Regions from separate parts of the Homo sapiens genome. Here region 2 is linked to region 1. The links come from fine-mapping of genetic effects on gene expression. A gene starts in region 1. The other region holds a variant in brackets. All regions are shown on one strand. Distances are from middle to middle.

What was found. PIP is the estimated chance that this variant, and not a neighbour inherited with it, causes the effect.
Region 2: its variant is fine-mapped to the expression of ADPRM in Th17 cells (Schmiedel 2018, PIP 0.95).

The regions. Positions count from the first base shown.
Region 1 is chr17:10,694,320-10,702,649 of GRCh38, reverse strand. It overlaps ADPRM (ADP-ribose/CDP-alcohol diphosphatase, manganese dependent), which reads right to left and starts at 5,056. Exons shown (of 4, transcript NM_020233.5): 1 at 4,983-5,056. SCO1 (synthesis of cytochrome C oxidase 1) reads left to right here and starts at 5,117. Exons shown (of 6, transcript NM_004589.4): 1 at 5,117-5,415; 2 at 6,819-6,909. The coding sequence starts at 5,143. RefSeq lists a silencer at 4,689-5,018 and enhancers at 5,139-5,188, 4,904-5,198, 4,492-5,316, 5,317-6,140.
Region 2 is chr17:10,309,863-10,318,192 of GRCh38, reverse strand. It overlaps MYH13 (myosin heavy chain 13), which reads left to right. Exons shown (of 41, transcript NM_003802.3): 28 at 2,168-2,294; 29 at 2,382-2,500; 30 at 4,839-5,035; 31 at 5,436-5,619; 32 at 6,117-6,282; 33 at 6,966-7,090. LOC107985004 (a long non-coding RNA gene) reads right to left here. Exons shown (of 5, transcript XR_007065617.1): 2 at 326-695. Among named protein-coding and RNA genes, the nearest start is that of MYH13, 59 kb to the left of the region's middle. RefSeq lists an enhancer at 8,261-8,330. The variant A/T (reference allele first, on the strand shown) is at 3,841.

The DNA.
Region 1 (8,330 bases):
AGCATCAGCCCTGGGACAGGCACTGCCACTACTACAAACGCTGATAAACTAAGGCTTCAATTTTTGGAGAAAATGAACTGACAAGAAATCCAACATAGAAAGAAACAATTCTGAATGATGGAAAGATGGAGATTTCTGAAAACATTAGTTGAATACCTAAATTCACCTGTCCCTGCTAGAACACTGGTCATTTAGTTACACATGTCAGCACATAAATTCTCCTGGGCTTAAAGCTAAATCAAATTGATTTTCTGTCATTTGATACCAAAATCCTCTCAAATACACCTTCCACTGGAACAAGTTCAGTTTAGAAAAACTCAAGGCTATCCTAAGAACTGGCAATTTTTAAGGAAAGTTAATGTGGAGAGAAGCACCAAGGGGCACACACTTCAAAACAGCGATGTGTTCTGGGGTAAAAAGAGAGATCCAAAGTGTTGAATATACATGGCTTTTAAAAATAAGGTTAGTATCTCCTTATCCAAAATGCTTGGGACCAGAAGTGTTTTAGATTTCGGACTTTTTCAGATTTTGGAATATACTTAACAGTTGAGCATTCCTGATCTGAAAATCCAAAATCCAAAATGCTCCAATTAACATTTCCTTTGAGCTTCATGTTGGTGCTCAAATTTCTGATTTGGGGCCATTTCAGATTTCAGAAACATATTCAGGGAAAGATAGGATCAGAAGTGAGTACGGCAGTGCAAAAAGAACCAGGTGGTCAGGGAATTGACTCTCCTGGCGAGTTTAGCCTTTCCTTTCTTGGTTCAGGGACATGTAGGGGGAGCTCAGAAAGATTGGTCCTGGTGAACAGAGAGATCAAAAACTCAAAGCCACCTCCAGTGAGGAAACTTAGAATTAATAAGCATTCTAATGTCAGGAAATGTTTTCAAAATAGCTCCCTCCCTCCATCAAATACAGACACACAAAAAAATCAGTGAGTACAGGATAATTGTGGAAGCTAGAAATGGGTGCATGAAGTTTATTCTAACTACTTTTATGTGTGTTTAAAAATGTACATATAGGCCAGGCGTGGTGGCTCACGCCTGTAATCCCAGCACTTTGGGAGGCCAAGGTGGGCGGATCACGAGGTCAGGAGATCGAGACCATCCTGGCTAACATGGTGAAACCCCATCTCTACTAAAAATACAAAAATTAGCCGGGTGTGGTGGCAGGCGCCTGTAGTCCCAGCTACTCAGGAGGCTGAGGCAGGAGAATGGTGTGAACCTGGGAGGCGGAGCTTGCAGTGAGCCGAGATCGCGCCACTGCACTCCAGCCTGGGCAACAGAGCGAGACTCCATCTCAAAAAAAAAAAAGTATACATAAAGTTTTTTTAAAAAAGAAAATTCAAAACTTTAGAGAAAATCAAATCTGGAAAAATTAGAAGACCTAAGGAAATATTTCGCTTTTGAATAGAAAGGAGAATGGCAAGTTTTTAGTGAACTTTGTTTTCAAAGTTTGCCTGCACCATTTATTACATGCTACGCTGTCTAAGTTTTAAAGAGGTATTATGAAGTGCTGAACCCTTTGAAATGAAAAACCCAGAACTGAATTATAGTCCTCGTGTTTCCTGAAGCAAAATAACCCTCAATAGGTTATCGTGAGCTTCAACTGAGTTATGATCACAGTAAACTATTACTCTGTAAATCTCTAAACCATAAAGTACTATACGCATGTTAAGAAAATAATTTTAAAATTATATATCTGAAAATCTGTCTAATGAGCCTCATAACTGAAACTACTGCAACATTTTAATAGAAGAGAATAATGTAGAAAAGTTTACAAGAGTTGCTCTCAAAATTCCTATCATGTCATAGTACAGGATAAGCAGCCAGTATTTTGAGAAAACTACCTTAGGCATGAGAGATTTTTTTTTTTTTTTTTTTCCTGAGACAGGGTCTGGCTCTACTGCGCAAGCTGGAGTGCAGTGGTGCGATCATGGCTCACTGTAGCCTCGACTTCCTGGGCTCAAGTGATCCTCCTAATTCAGCCTCCCTGGTAGCTAAGACTACAGGCATGTACCACCACACCTGACTTTTTTTGGCTTTTTTTTTTTTTTCTTTTGTAGAGATAGGGTTTTGCCATGTTGCCCAGGCTGGTCTCAAGCTCCTGAGCTCAAGTGATCCACCTGCCTCAGGCCTCCCATACCCAAGGATGCTTAATTACTGAAAAGTTACTACAAGATCATACTAATAGGGTTTTGCCATGTTGCCCAGGCTGGTCTCAAGCTCCTGAGCTCAAGTGATCCACCTGCCTCAGGCCTCCCATACCCAAGGATGCTTAATTACTGAAAAGTTGCTATAAGATCATACTAATAAAACTTTTCCAATACTTAAGATTGGCAGAAGGCTGAAGTTCCTTGTGGAAAGCCTTCAAGCATCAATAATGAACTTGTAAAAGAAGTAGCTCTACCCTGAAAAGAGTATGATTTCTTCACTCTATTGTCAAAGGTGAAGGGGGCAGCAGGGAAAGTCTAGAGATTAATAAAGAGAGACTTTGTTAGGAGAAACTATTGTAACAGAGGCTCCTAGCCTAAGGGTGCAGCATATGTTTTCTACGCAGATACCATACCAAAAGGAAAGTTAAGTTGGGGCAGGAAATGTTTGTGGTTAGGAGTTAGGCACAAGGGGCAGGGGCCTGGAACAAAAATGAAGTAAACACATTAGGGTGCTGGGAAGTTCACAAAAGTTAGGGCCTAGCTGTCCCCAGTCAAACCAGCCTAAAGTTATGTCAAGAACAAAATCTGATCACTATTGATAGAACCAATATCAGATGATACTAATCCATGCCCTGCTTCTCTCAAGAAAAATATCTAAATTGGGGCCGGGTGTGGTGGCGCAAGCCTGTAATCCTAGCACTTTGGGAGGCCGAGGCGGGCAGATCACGATGTCAGGAAATCGAGACCGTCCTAGCTAACATGGTGAAACACTGTCTCTACTAAAAATATATATATTTTTTAAATTAGACAGGCCTGGTGGCACGCACCTCTAGTCCCAGCTACACGGGAGGATGAGGCAAGAGAATCGCTTGAACCCAGGAGGCGGAGGTTGCAGTGAGCTGAGATCGCACCACTGCACACTCCAGCTTGGGCGACAGAGGGAGACTTTGTCTCAAAAAAAAAAAAAAAAAAAAAAGAAAGAAAAGAAAAATATCTAACTTGGAAAACAAAACATAAACCTCATTTGGTGACTTTGGTGGTTTCACAGCAGTAATAAAAGTGATAAGGTCTATAAGGGATAACACTGTAGGCGCCTTCTGGCACTAAAGTTTCATGGGTCCTTGCCATCAGGCTCAGGTGTTACTAGCAATTCATCCAAAATGCAGTTATAAAACACCTACTTTGAGCCAGGAACTATATTTTATATTTATTTTATTTATTTTTTAGAGGCAGAGTCTTGCTTTGTTGCCCAGACTGGAAGGCAGTGGCCCGATCACAGCTCACTGCAGCTTCAAACTCCTAGGCTCCAGTGACCCACTCACCTCAGCCTCCCAAAGTGATGGGATTACAGGCGTGAGCCACCACATCTGGCCCCAAGAACTGTTTTCAATGATAGCATTTTATTTAATATTATAAAATTAATATGAAGAAGTTGCTACTAAAAGAAGCACTTTAGCAAATAAAATTTAATAGATCAGGTAGAAACACTGACTTCAATCTTAATTTGGGTGGCTGATCAGGTAACCTACAATTGGGCAATCAGAGATGAACAATAATTTTGTATGCTATCTGCCTGACTACACAAGGTACTTTTATGTCTTTTTGTCAATTACAAGAAAAAATTATCCCTGGGCAAACAAATACACAAAGATAAAAGAGCAAAAATCCTACCCACAGGCAACTATAAGATAGAAAAAAATAGTTTGATTAACGACTTGAAGTGCTGAACAAACATTTAAGAACTTTGGCAGAAATTTCTGAAAATTCTAGTCCAACCGCGAATCAAGAAACACAGGTAACACTATGTTCCGTTACTGGGTTAGAGAACAGAACAGTTGGCTAGTTTGGCTAACTCATAGAAAACAAGCAAACCAACCATGCTCTGGTCCAACAATCATCAGAGCACGAGTTTCTCCTACTCAGAGTCGGTCCCATGGGGGAAAAAAAAGCCACACAGGAGCGGGATCTGTAGTTAAGGAAGATAATTAGAGGACGATTTTCCTTTTTTTATTTCTCTGTATTTTGTAAAGCAACCACCGAGGTAGGGGCGGGGAGGGAGTGGTTAATATTGCGGATATTAAGATATAAATAAAGGCAGATGAAATGAAGTTAGACTTTCACAAAGAACGAAAAACCTACGAATGCTCTTGGCCTCATTAACAAGGAACATAAGCAGTTCCAGATGAGGAACCCATAACAAACTTCAAATAACGAAACTGTAGGGAGCAAGGGAGTCCGTGAGAGTATTTTAAGAAACTGGGACCCAGGAAGACTAAGTTAACGGATGGGATATCATGCTGTCTATATTTCTTTACACACTGCTATGCTTTATTAATTAGGTTACATTATAATGTTAAATAACTAGAAGCGCTGGGCATTTAAAGTTCTTCCAGACCGCCCTAACCACTCAAATTATCCTAATTAGCAATTTTTTTTAAGTTAAAGACTATTTCAATCGCAATGGGTCGGTTTCTATTTCAAAGATGTAAAGGAGTCAACATTCTGGCACTTCCTCTTGGCCGGCAGGACGAGGTTGACAAAGTCGGCCAGACAAGGTAGGGTTATGGGGGCTGCCCAGTCCCGTGGGTCTCTAGGCAGTGTGTTCTCTCTTCCGAGGTGGGGGTGTCCCCGGCGCGAGGAGCTAGCTGTGGTCACCGAAGCCCACGACCAAAGCGGGGGCCCCCAGCGCTTGGGGCCGCCTTGCCTCGGCCCAGCCGCGCACCTGGACCCCTAAGGCAGCCCCCTTCCCGGCGCTCCGCTGTCCCGCGGCCCCGCAGCACCGCCCAGCCCGCGCCAGACCCGCCTCCAGCCGCAGGGAACTACCTACCGTGCGCCGGCCCCTGGGCTGAAAGGCCTCTGACTACGGGCTATGTAACAGCGCCACCAACGAGCGGGACGGACAGAGCGACTCCTTCCGACTTCCGGAGGAAGCGGAACGCTACCGGAAATCGCGGGGAGGGTCAAAGGAGACCCGGTCTCCGAGGCTCATGGCGATGCTGGTCCTAGTACCCGGACGAGTTATGCGGCCTCTGGGTGGCCAACTTTGGCGCTTCTTGCCTCGCGGACTCGAGTTTTGGGGCCCAGCCGAGGGGACTGCGAGAGTCTTGCTGAGGCAGTTCTGCGCGCGGCAAGCGGAGGCGTGGCGTGCCTCGGGGCGCCCTGGCTATTGCCTGGGAACCCGGCCCCTCAGCACTGCGAGGCCGCCACCCCCGTGGTCGCAGAAGGGCCCCGGAGACTCCACGCGCCCCTCGAAGCCCGGGGTGAGTGCACACCTGGAACCCTTCTGGTGCTCGTCGCGGCTGTCGGCCAGCCCAGCGGCCACATCCCACTTGGTCGTAACCTCAGACACTACTCCGCCTCCCCTAAAGTTGTCCTTAGCTTGCGCGCCTTACCTGGGTCATGGAATTTCATCCTACATTTCCCGTGCCTTGCGGGTAGTCCCAGTTCTCCACAGAGAACTTGAGACTTTACACCCTCTCCACGTGGCTGGATGCCCCGACTTGGATTTTATGTTAGCGTTTCCATCAAAAAAAAAAAAAAAATTAAGTTTCAGGTTTTCTTAAGGGTATGAACCTAAAGTTTACCGTGATTGAGAAGTCAGAGGACTTTTATAATTTGTCACTTGAGCCCCATCCAGAGTTCCATGTATACGTTGAAATTGAAACAAAAAGTGGAACTTAGTTATGTGTGGATCTGCCTTTTTCTTGGGGTTCTCTCGAGTTCTAATTCTGACCCAGAAATAACTTGAGAGCCACTACCCTGTGGTAAGAGAAGTGGGTTTTTGGAGCTACGGGAAGGTTAATGAGTTAGGCCTAGTCTAGTTGGCCAACATCATCTTCATTTGGGGAGTTGAATAAGGGTACAAAGAAATAATGGGTGTAATTTGCAAGAAGCTCCACTTTTAGATTCCTCTTCTACTTTGGCATTGTTACTTCTGGAAGCCAGAGTTAAGTTAACCTCCCAAATTTCGTTTGGTCTATTTATCTCAGTATCAGCATAAGCAGATAATTGTTTTTTGTGTGTGTGTTTTTGGATTTTGGTTTTTGTTTTGAGACGGAGTTTTGCTCTTTTGCCCAGGCTGGAGTGCAGTGGCCCTATCTCGGCCCACTGCAACGTCCGCCTCCCGGGTTCAAGCGATTCTCCTGCCTCAGCCTCCCGTGTAGCTGGGTTTAGAGGGGTCCGCTACCACGCCCGGCTAATTTTTGTATTTTCAGTGGAGATGGGGTTTCACCATGTTGGCCATGCTGGTCTCAAACTCCCGACCTCAGGTGATCCACCCGCCTCCGCCTCCCAAAGTGCTGGGATTACAGGCGTGACCCACCGCGCCCGGCCATAATTGGTTTTAAAGTCATTACTGGAGCTAGGGTCACACATAGTAACAATCGTGGTACTTGAGCTTTTTTTTTTTTTTTTTTTTTTTTTTATTTACATGAAGAGAACTGACTTAGGGAACTTTCCCCTGGAGATGAATGCCTTTGTAGTTCAGATCCCAGACCTAACTGCATCCACAGAAACTTTGAGCATTTTCTCATCCCTGAAACATTTTGCACATTTAACATCATGGCCTGTGTGTATGTATATTAAAAACTACTTTAATAAGTTTGTATGGTTAAATGTTTGCATCTTACTAGAATTTTTATGTTTGAAATCCCTGCCCCAGTAGCCTGTTTCCTGGAAGTCTTTAGCAATCACATTTGCTATTGGAGGAGCTTTACTGGCTGGAATGAAGCACGTCAAGAAAGAAAAGGCAGAGAGTAAGTAGATTATCATCTGCTCAGCCCTGTATAAAGGTCTTCCTGGCTATGGACTAGCACCTTTTTTGTTGTTTTTTAGCTTTTTGTTTTGAAACAACTTTAGATTTACCAAAAAATTGCAAAGATAGCATAGGTTCTACATACCTTTCACCCAGCTTCCCCTAATATTAACATCTTGTATAACCATGACACATTTTTCATGACTAAGAAATTTTAAATGGCACACAACTATTAAATTACAGATTGTATTTGGATTTCACTTGTTTTTCTATCAATGTCTTTTATTTGTTCCAGGATCCAAGCTAGGATACCACTGCATAACAATGTTAAAAGATATACTGTGGATAGATTTGACTGGGCAAGATGAAATCTGGAGGGTACGAAGATGAGTAAGATGTAGTCGAGCCTTTGAGGTGCACACGGAAGGGAAACAGACACAGAAGTAAAGTATTTTACTAGATGCGATTCTGCCAGGCCAGAAGGAAGCTTACCATGTTGTGAGAGCAAAAGCAAGTCCCAGCCTTGAGATTTGAGAAGGCTTCCTAGAGATCAGGCAAGGAGCATAGTGCGAGTAGATACTGCATGCCCTCTGTGGATGAGGGGGAGGTGAAAAGAGCCTGGTCAGGAAATGCCAGGAACTGCTCTGGATTAGCATCTTGAAATATTTAGAAATTATTTATAAGAACTTTGCATTTTAGTGAATATCCTAGGACTTTTAAGATTTGGTTTAGAGGTTTTAGGTAAATCTTTAAAGTATTGCTTAAATCTTTCCATTCTTTGGAGTCTCTTTTGATAACATTATATACAAAGGTTAATGATTAAATCTGGGAATTCATAGGCTTTAGGAACTTAGCAGTGTTAAGTTTTGTACTGACATACATATATATGAGACTCTTTGGCATAATAAGTAGTATTGGGTAAGATTTTCATAGTCTAATAAGCAGTAAGTTTCTTTAGTTTCACAAAGAAACAAAAGCTAGGAAAGTTGTGGCGGGAAAATTCTAGAATATGGAAGCTTTTTTTGACTTTAGTTTGGAATTTCAAGTGCAATTCTAACGTTTGTTTTATTTAAAAAATGTATTATTAAATAATCTGAAAAGTCTTCCTAAATAATTTGAGAGTATTTATTTGCTGACATGTTGCGTCATTAGCTCCAAACACTTTTTGGTGTATTTCCTACAAACAAGGACCTTTTCTAGCATAACCACAATACAACCATCAAAATTAGAAAATTGACGCTGATAATTTTGCTGCTGTTCAGTGTTCAGATAATCTTCAGGGTATTGTTTATTTGTTTGTTTTTTGAGACAGAGTTTCACTCCTGTTGCCCAGGCTGGATTACAGTTCAGTCTTCCAAGTTTTGCCACTTGATGTCTTTCAGAGCAAAAGGATCTGTTTCAGAACCATACCACCTTGTATCT
Region 2 (8,330 bases), 380 kb after region 1:
TCAGCTCACTGCAACCTCTACCTCCCAGGTTCAAGCAATTCTCCTGCCTCAGCCTCCCAAGTAGCTGGGATTACAGGCACACGCCACCAGGCCTGGCTAATTTTTGTATTTTTGGTAGAGTTGGGGTTTCACCATGTTGGCCAGGCTGGTCTTGAACTCCTGGCCTCAGGTGATCCACCCACCTCAGCCTCCCAAAGTGCTGGGATTACAGGCATGAGCCACTGTGCCTGGCCGATTGGGGCTCTTTAAGAAAAAAGTATACAAACTTATAAAAATTAGGCATGAAAGTTGATATTTAAAATGAGACAAAAAAGTCGCAGGTTACCTTGAAGACTCAAGTTCTTTTCTCCTGAGGCCTCTTTGGGCCATTTGCCAGAAATGCCTTCTAGAATATTCTGCTTGTGATGGCTCCTCTTCCCTTGAACCTTCTGCAGCTCCCAGACTCTCTGTGGCCCATGCAAATGCGGGCCCTGAAGCTTATTTCACAAGCTTCATAGTGAACCCACCTCTGTGCATGGCCTCAAAGCAAAGAATTCCTCGTGGAGCATGTGTGCTCCTCGATTTAACACGTGCCCTCCTTGCAGGGTGCTCTGAGCTGTACTAGGAGCTGTTTGGCTAGACTGGAAGAAGCAGTGGTGACCCTAGAAGCGAGGCTGTGGGCCTCTCACCGAGGGTTTCCCGGAAGGTCAGGGCATCTGTCCAGAAAAGGAAGGGAGATATGAATCAGAGAACTAGAGTGGTCTCTCCAGCGCCCCCTGCTGCCAGTGTTTAGGGTCTGCGTCCACGCAGCCCTGTGCCTCCTTGATTGCTTCTTCACTCCGCGACTGCAGCCTCTGGCTCCGGCTGATGACTCCTTTTCTCTTTCTTTCCTGCTTTCCCATGTGTTTGCCCTTTTTCCCTTGGTTTTCTTTCTTCCTCTAAGAACTTGGTTCTGTAAATGTTCCCCTCCCACACCTCTCTCTCGGCGAGCCAGGCCAGCCTGCAGGGGTAGCTGGGTAGGAAGGGCCTCCAGCATCCCCCATACACTATGCCTATAAACAGCCCCCACTCCAGCCTCCCTATCTCCAGAATTGCCGTGTGCTGCTCTCTGTTCTCAATTTTAACATCCAGGGGAAGCAGCACGTCATGTCTCTTAACGCTTTTTCAGTTGTCCCCTTTGACGATTCTCCTTGCAAGCTGCCATCGCGTTTCAACTCTCCCTGCTTTGATTCCTTCATGTTTGCGTGTCATCTTCTCAAAGAGATCCTAAGCTCCTCCAGGACGCCCGTGGAATTAGTGTCCCTGCTTCCTCCACTGCCATCTCATACTTACCATTCTAAAGAAAAACATATGCTCTATACATTTTATTTTCTATTTTATGGAGCAGCAGGAGGAGAGAAAGGTCAACACACACAAGGGTTTTGAACAAACTTCACAAAAATACAGGCCAACTGGAAGCCAGAGAGGTGAATCTCTTCATACGGCCTGCACCATGGGGAACCTTCTGTGTTATTGAATGAAATGCTTAACACTGTCATCTGAATATATTGCTTGCAAATATTCACAGGCTTGTATTGCTTGCAATTATTCACGAATCACTTATATTACAAGAGGATCCCAAAGATCCACTTAAAAGTGACATCTTCTCAAAGGGTTGTTTACAAATCATTAAATACTTATCTACCTGATGTTCCAAGTGATTGGTGATTGAGCTGCATTCACAAATCTGAAATAATTATGATTTTTTTTTTTGAGACGGAGTTTCACTCTTGCCGCCAAGGCTAGAGTGCAATGGCATGATCTCGGCTCACTGCAACCTCCGCCTCCCGAGTTCAAGCGATTCTCCTGCCTCAGCCTCCCGAGTAGCTGGGATTACAGGCATGCACCACCACGCCTGGCTAATTTCTGTATTTTTAGTAGAGATAAGGTTTCACCATGTTGGTCAGGCTAGTCTCAAACTCCTGACCTCAGGTGATCCACCCTCCTCGGCCTCCCAAAGTGCTGGGATTATAGGCGTGAGCCACTGCGCCTGGCCGATTATGATTTTTTTGAAACTGAACTTTTTTTTGTTCTGTACTTTTATTTTTATTTTACCTGACAAGAAACTAAATGATTACACTGTTCAGTTCAATGCTGGGCACTAGGAATCCATTTCTTCCCATTCGTGTTGACTTTCTGTTTGTTAAAGAGTAACATAGAAAGAACGTGCCGGACGGTAGAAGATCAATTTAGTGAAATCAAAGCCAAGGACGAGCAACAGACACAGTTGATCCATGATCTGAACATGCAGAAAGCAAGACTGCAGACCCAAAATGGTGAGAATGGGCAGGGCTCTGGGTCCAGCCGGGCCATGGGAGAGGGTGGTCAGTAACACTGACGTGGGGGCCACATCTGTTTGGTAGGGGAGCTGAGCCACCGAGTGGAAGAGAAGGAGTCTCTGATTTCACAGCTGACCAAAAGCAAGCAGGCCCTCACCCAGCAGCTGGAGGAGCTTAAGAGGCAAATGGAAGAAGAAACCAAGGTAAAGATATAGAGTCAGATTGAACCTGAGAAGCCAGGCTATATGACCACTTCACCCGTGAAGCTGGTCAGAGCAGTGCTACATCAAGAAATCTGCTGCAGCTGGGCACGGTGACTCACACCTGTAATCCCAGCACTTTGGGAGGCCAAGGCAGATGGATCACGAGATCAGGAGTTCAAGACCAGCCTGGCCAAGATGGCGAAACCCCGTCTCCACTAAAAATACAAAAAAAAATTAGCTGGGTGTACTGGCAGGTGCCCGTAATCCCAGCTACTCGGGAGGCTGAGGCAGACAATTCCTTGAACCCAGGGGGCGGAGGTGGCAGTGAGCTGAGATCACGCCACTGCACTCCAGCCTGGAAGACAGAGCGAGACTCCATTAAAGAAAGAAAGAAAGAAACCTGTTGCTTCTCCTGTCTGCCTTGCAGCATGGTGGGAACCTGTCCTTTAAGGTTAGAGGACCTTGGCACTGGATCTCCTTCTTCAGGAATAGAAAACCGTACCTATGGTGGTCCATCCCCTGGCCTCCTCTGTCCCCCGCAGGGTGGTCTGAGAAACTCCCCTTTCCAGCCAGGGCACCTCCTCCCCATCACTGCACACACTTGATCATTCTGCCCAGCAATTCATCCTGGCCACCTGAAATCCCCCTCCTCTTTCTTCTTCATTATTCCTGATGTGTCACCTCCTATACCACCTGATTTTAAGCTCCCCTCCTCCAAGAAGGCTCCATGGTTTTGGGAGCACCCTTGAGACAGTCGCATAAACATGAACATCATCACCTTCTTGATTTCAATGTCTAGATATTGTGTTTATAATACATGTCTCCCCACAGATCTATAAACTCATGGAGGGCAAGAATAGTTTGTCCCCACTGTACCTACTGTGCCTAGCAGAACAGTGCACACAGTAGGTACTTGGTGCTGCCAATTCATATTCAAGTATCAGAATAGGGGACTAAGAGTCCAAAAAACTGCATGAATGGAATTCCGAGGTTGCTGTACGCTGGCTAAGACTTATAGGGCAATCTTTTGGAATTTTCCCAAGCTCCACCTTTTTCTTCTGAAAAAGGACAAGCGCCATATTTGTCTCCCATCTTTCTGTTGTATGGTAAAGATCTTTGGTAGATGAGGGGAAAGGGGAAGTGGTGAGAACCCAAGCCTGAACAAGTACTGAGAAGAGCCACTGCAGGAGCGGGCTGTCCTTTGGCAAGAATACAGCAACAGCTGAGTTTTCCTTCTTAGGCAAAGTGTGTCATTTATTGCCTTTTTTTTTTTTTTTGAGATGGAGTTTCACTCTTGTTGCCCAGGCTGGAGTGCAATGGCTCGATCTTGGCTCACCACA[A/T]CCTCTGCCTCCTGGGTTCAAGTGATTCTCCTGCCTCAGCCTCCCAAGTAGCTGGGATTACGTGCATGTGCCACCATGCCCGGTTTTGTATTTTTAGTAGTGACAGGGTTTCTCCATGTTGATCAGGCTGGTCTCAAACTCCTGGCCTCAGGTGATCCGCCCATCTCGGCCTCCCAAACTGCTAGGATTACAGGCATGAGCCACCACGCTTGGTCTATTGCATTTTTAAAAAGATGAAAATGTACAAATTACTGAAGTGGGCTGACAGAACTCTCTCTTTGATGGTGGCACCAGAGGGCGTCTTGTGGCCATTATAGTCGGAGCTAAACTGTTGCCCTTACATCCCTCCAATGGGAGGGAGTGAGGGATGGAGGCCTCTAGGCATGTCTTCTCTGCCTAGGAGGAGGAAGTCCAGCCGTGGAAACAGCGAAGCTCACATCAGCAATCCCCAGTGTGGGGACATAGCCCAGTGGTGACATCAAAAGATGCTTTCAGGCTTCTCCTGGTCACAGCATTCCATACCATTGCATCAAGTAGTGAGAAAATTATTCCCTTTTTAATTGTTCCAATCCTTCTGATTATATCAAGGAAAAGGCCTCAGTGTGAACCACACTTCCTTAGCATTTGCTTATTTACCCTATTAAGAAATAGAGGGTAGACCCCAGGCATGGAGTCCCAGCAGGCAACAGTACCTAGCTAGACATGATAACATTGCTTTATTTCCATTGCACTTATGGTTACCTTCTGTTTATGGCAAATGTCAATGGTTTTCCACTTACTTTCCTGTGACAGTTTACTCTTTTGTTAAATATATTTAAATATAATTAAGGAGTCCACTTGAAAAAAAATTAAATAAACCAGGTGATATGCTGATATGGCAAAATTGGTGAAGACAGCATAGGGATAATTCAAGTTGGGGGAAAGCGATTTAAATGAAAATACCTGAACTTGGAAAAGGGTCAAATGTTTTTGCAATTTGTCACCGCTGTCATTCCCAGGCCAAGAACGCCATGGCGCACGCCCTGCAGTCCTCCCGCCACGACTGTGACCTGCTGCGGGAACAGTATGAGGAGGAGCAGGAAGCCAAGGCCGAGCTGCAGAGGGCGCTGTCCAAGGCCAACAGTGAGGTTGCCCAGTGGAGGACCAAATACGAGACGGACGCCATTCAGCGCACAGAGGAGCTGGAGGAGGCCAAGTAGGGGCTCCAGGGTGGCAATAGCAGAGGGGGCCCGAGGACACAAGCCAAGGGACCAGGAGTCTTCATATCTTGAGAGATTCTTTCCTGCCCACGCCTTTGTGGTTTCTGAAACACTCGGATTGTACCCCCCACCCTCTGGGGGTCTCCCTGTCCTTCTTCTCGGGAACTGTCCATTCCACCTAGCTCCCTGGAGGTGCTCCTTAGGGACCTGCTTTGCCACCAAGCATTTTGAGAATCTCTCGGTGACACTTGGATCCTCCCCACTCACCAAATCCTAGGTCTTGGTCTCATCAAACACCAGTCCCTTCCACGCTATTCATTTCTCTTCCCATCTGACAGTTACCTACTGAAATATTCCACCTTTGCGAAGGGGAAAAAAAAAATCTGGTTTTCGTAGGAAAAAACTGGCCCAGAGGCTCCAGGAAGCAGAGGAGAACACGGAGACGGCGAACTCCAAGTGCGCATCGTTGGAGAAAACCAAGCAGAGGCTGCAGGGAGAGGTGGAGGATCTGATGCGGGATCTGGAGCGCTCCCACACCGCCTGTGCCACACTGGACAAGAAGCAGAGGAACTTCGACAAGGTCCTTCCCCAGCCGCTTTCTTTGTGAAGATGGCATGAGGATAATTCAAGTTGGGGAAATGCTATTTACATGAAAATACCTGAATTTGGAAAAGGGACAAATGTTTTGCAGTGGCAGTGGTGAAAACAACAGTTTCACGCTTAGATGTGTGAGATACCTGCACATCCTAGAAGGCCCCCAGTTGGAGCATCATTTCCCAGTTTCAGGGACTTGAGGTGTCTTCTTGACTACTGTGACAGTCCCTCCAAAGGCAATTTTATTTTTAGTGAAAGCTAATTCCGTTCCACTGAGATTATAATGTCTGTGAGAATGCAGCAGAGGGTCTGCAGGGATATCACAGTTTGGGGTCCCTGATCTAGAACAGTGCTCCTCCTCCTTCTTCAGTCCCTAAGGATGGAAGGGCAAAACGTTGGTGTTACTGACAGCCCTTGTTTGCATGAACTCTTCTGAGTCACCCCTGCTTTCTGCTTCTCCCATGTCCCTTTGTCATCTCCCAGGTCCTTGCAGAGTGGAAGCAAAAGCTGGACGAAAGCCAGGCTGAGTTGGAAGCTGCTCAGAAGGAGTCCAGGTCACTCAGCACTGAACTCTTCAAGATGAGGAATGCCTATGAGGAGGTGGTGGACCAGTTAGAGACACTGAGGCGAGAGAACAAAAATCTGCAAGGTGAGCTGTCTCCACCACTGGTGTGTGCTATGTCCCCCTCTCCTCCTGCCAACCCCTTCCCCATTTGGCCACAGCCATCTCCAGACACCTCCTTCCCACTGCCCCACACGATCCTCACCCATCATGCCTCACATTGACTCAGTTTGCCCCAAGGCCCAGACCTTTTTAATGTAAGGCACGGCAGCAGCTAAGTCTCATTTTTGAGAACTGAAGGAACAGTGGGTTGCTGAGCCCACTGCTCCGTTAGAGAAGACCCTTCAGTGATTCTGTCTCTAGGTGGCTTTGTATTCTTGCACATGCCACTGAATCCCTTAGGACCTCAGATTTCTGATCTACAAAATCAGAAGACCACACCCAACACTTTCCAAAGCCCCTTCTGGTTCTGCAGACTATGATTCTATGCGTTTTCCCCACAGTTGTTTTCTCTGGTCTTCTCTATGACCGTTTTGTATATGGTACTTTTGAAGTTTTAAGTTTCTATTCTTTACTTGTGGTTCCTGTCTGCCTAGTGCAGGTGAGGCAACACATCCCTGTCTTGCCAACACCTCATCTGAACGGCTGCCCTGTATTCTCTCCTGTATAAATGTCATGAATGAATCGCCCATCCCTGAATTGCCTGGCAAATGCCTATACTATAAACTGGAGCCTGTTGAAACAGCCTAAATCAAGCCTGTCCTTTGCAGAAGAGATTTCCGACTTAACTGAGCAGATTGCAGAAACTGGCAAGAATCTTCAGGAAGCGGAAAAGACCAAGAAGCTAGTGGAGCAGGAAAAGTCAGATCTGCAGGTCGCCTTAGAAGAAGTGGAGGTAAGTGTCTAGGATATGACATTCAGAAATTCAGGAGGACAGGGAACTGAAAGAGGCTGCCCTTCACCACCCCATGGGGCCTTTCCTGCCAGGAGACCCTGAGTCTCCATTGGGAGTAACATTCAGCCATCCCAGGGGCTGAAACATCCACGGGCTGCTACTTTATCTCCTAGGCGTTCTCTGGCACAGTTCCCCTTTGAAAATAAATAAATGTGTTCATTATGTTCTTCAATGTCTTCCTCTCAGGAAGCAGAAAATCAATCACCTAACATCCTGAGAGCAGCGCAGAATCTCTCAGTTATGTTTAACATAGAGGCACAGACAATCATTTTTGGCTATCAAGAATCCTGTATAATCCAAACACACCCAGCATCTCCCGATGCAGTAATCGGTGGTGGTCAGGATGGCTGGTGGTTTCTAGGGAAATACGAACCGACACAGGATAACAGGAGAGCAGTTGCCCTGTCATTTTAGAGAATAGGTTGACTCCTGATTTATGGTCACTATTATAATAGATACCCTCAATAAAATTTTCACTAATTAAGAAAGATACTCTATCTCAAGTCATAAAATAATTTGTTCATGAGCGATGCAAAGTTTTAGTCCCAGTTTCATCACTATTAGGGATATTTGGGAGCAAGCCAAATACTCAGACCTCTCTGAATATTGTTCTCTTCATCTATAAAATGGGTATAAGAATACCTATTTGCAGCCGGGCATGGTGGCTCACAACTGTAATCCTAGTACTTTGGGAGGCCGAGGCAGGCAGATCACCTGGAAGGTCAGGAGTTCGAGACCAGCCTAGGCAACATGGTGAAACCCTGTCTTTACCAAAAATACGAAAATTAGCCAGGCACAGTGGTGGGCACCTGTAATCCCAACTACTCGGGAGGCTGAGGCAGGAGAATCGCTTGAACCCAGGGGGTGGAGGTTGCATTGAGCCGAGATTGTGCCACTGCACTCCAGCCTGGGCAACAGAATGAGACTCTGTCCAAAAAAAAAAAAAAACACAAAACCTATTTGGGCTCTGGGCACCATGGCTCACACCTGTAATCCCAACACTTTAGGAGGCCAAGGAGAGAGGATCACTGGAGCCCAGGAGTTCAGGACCAGCCTGGGCAACACAGACCCTGTCTCTACCAAAAAAAAAAAAAAATTTAAATTTAATTTTTTTAAAAAAACGCATACCCATTTGATCGTATGGGGATGAAAATACCCATTCATGAAGGTGGATGTCCAC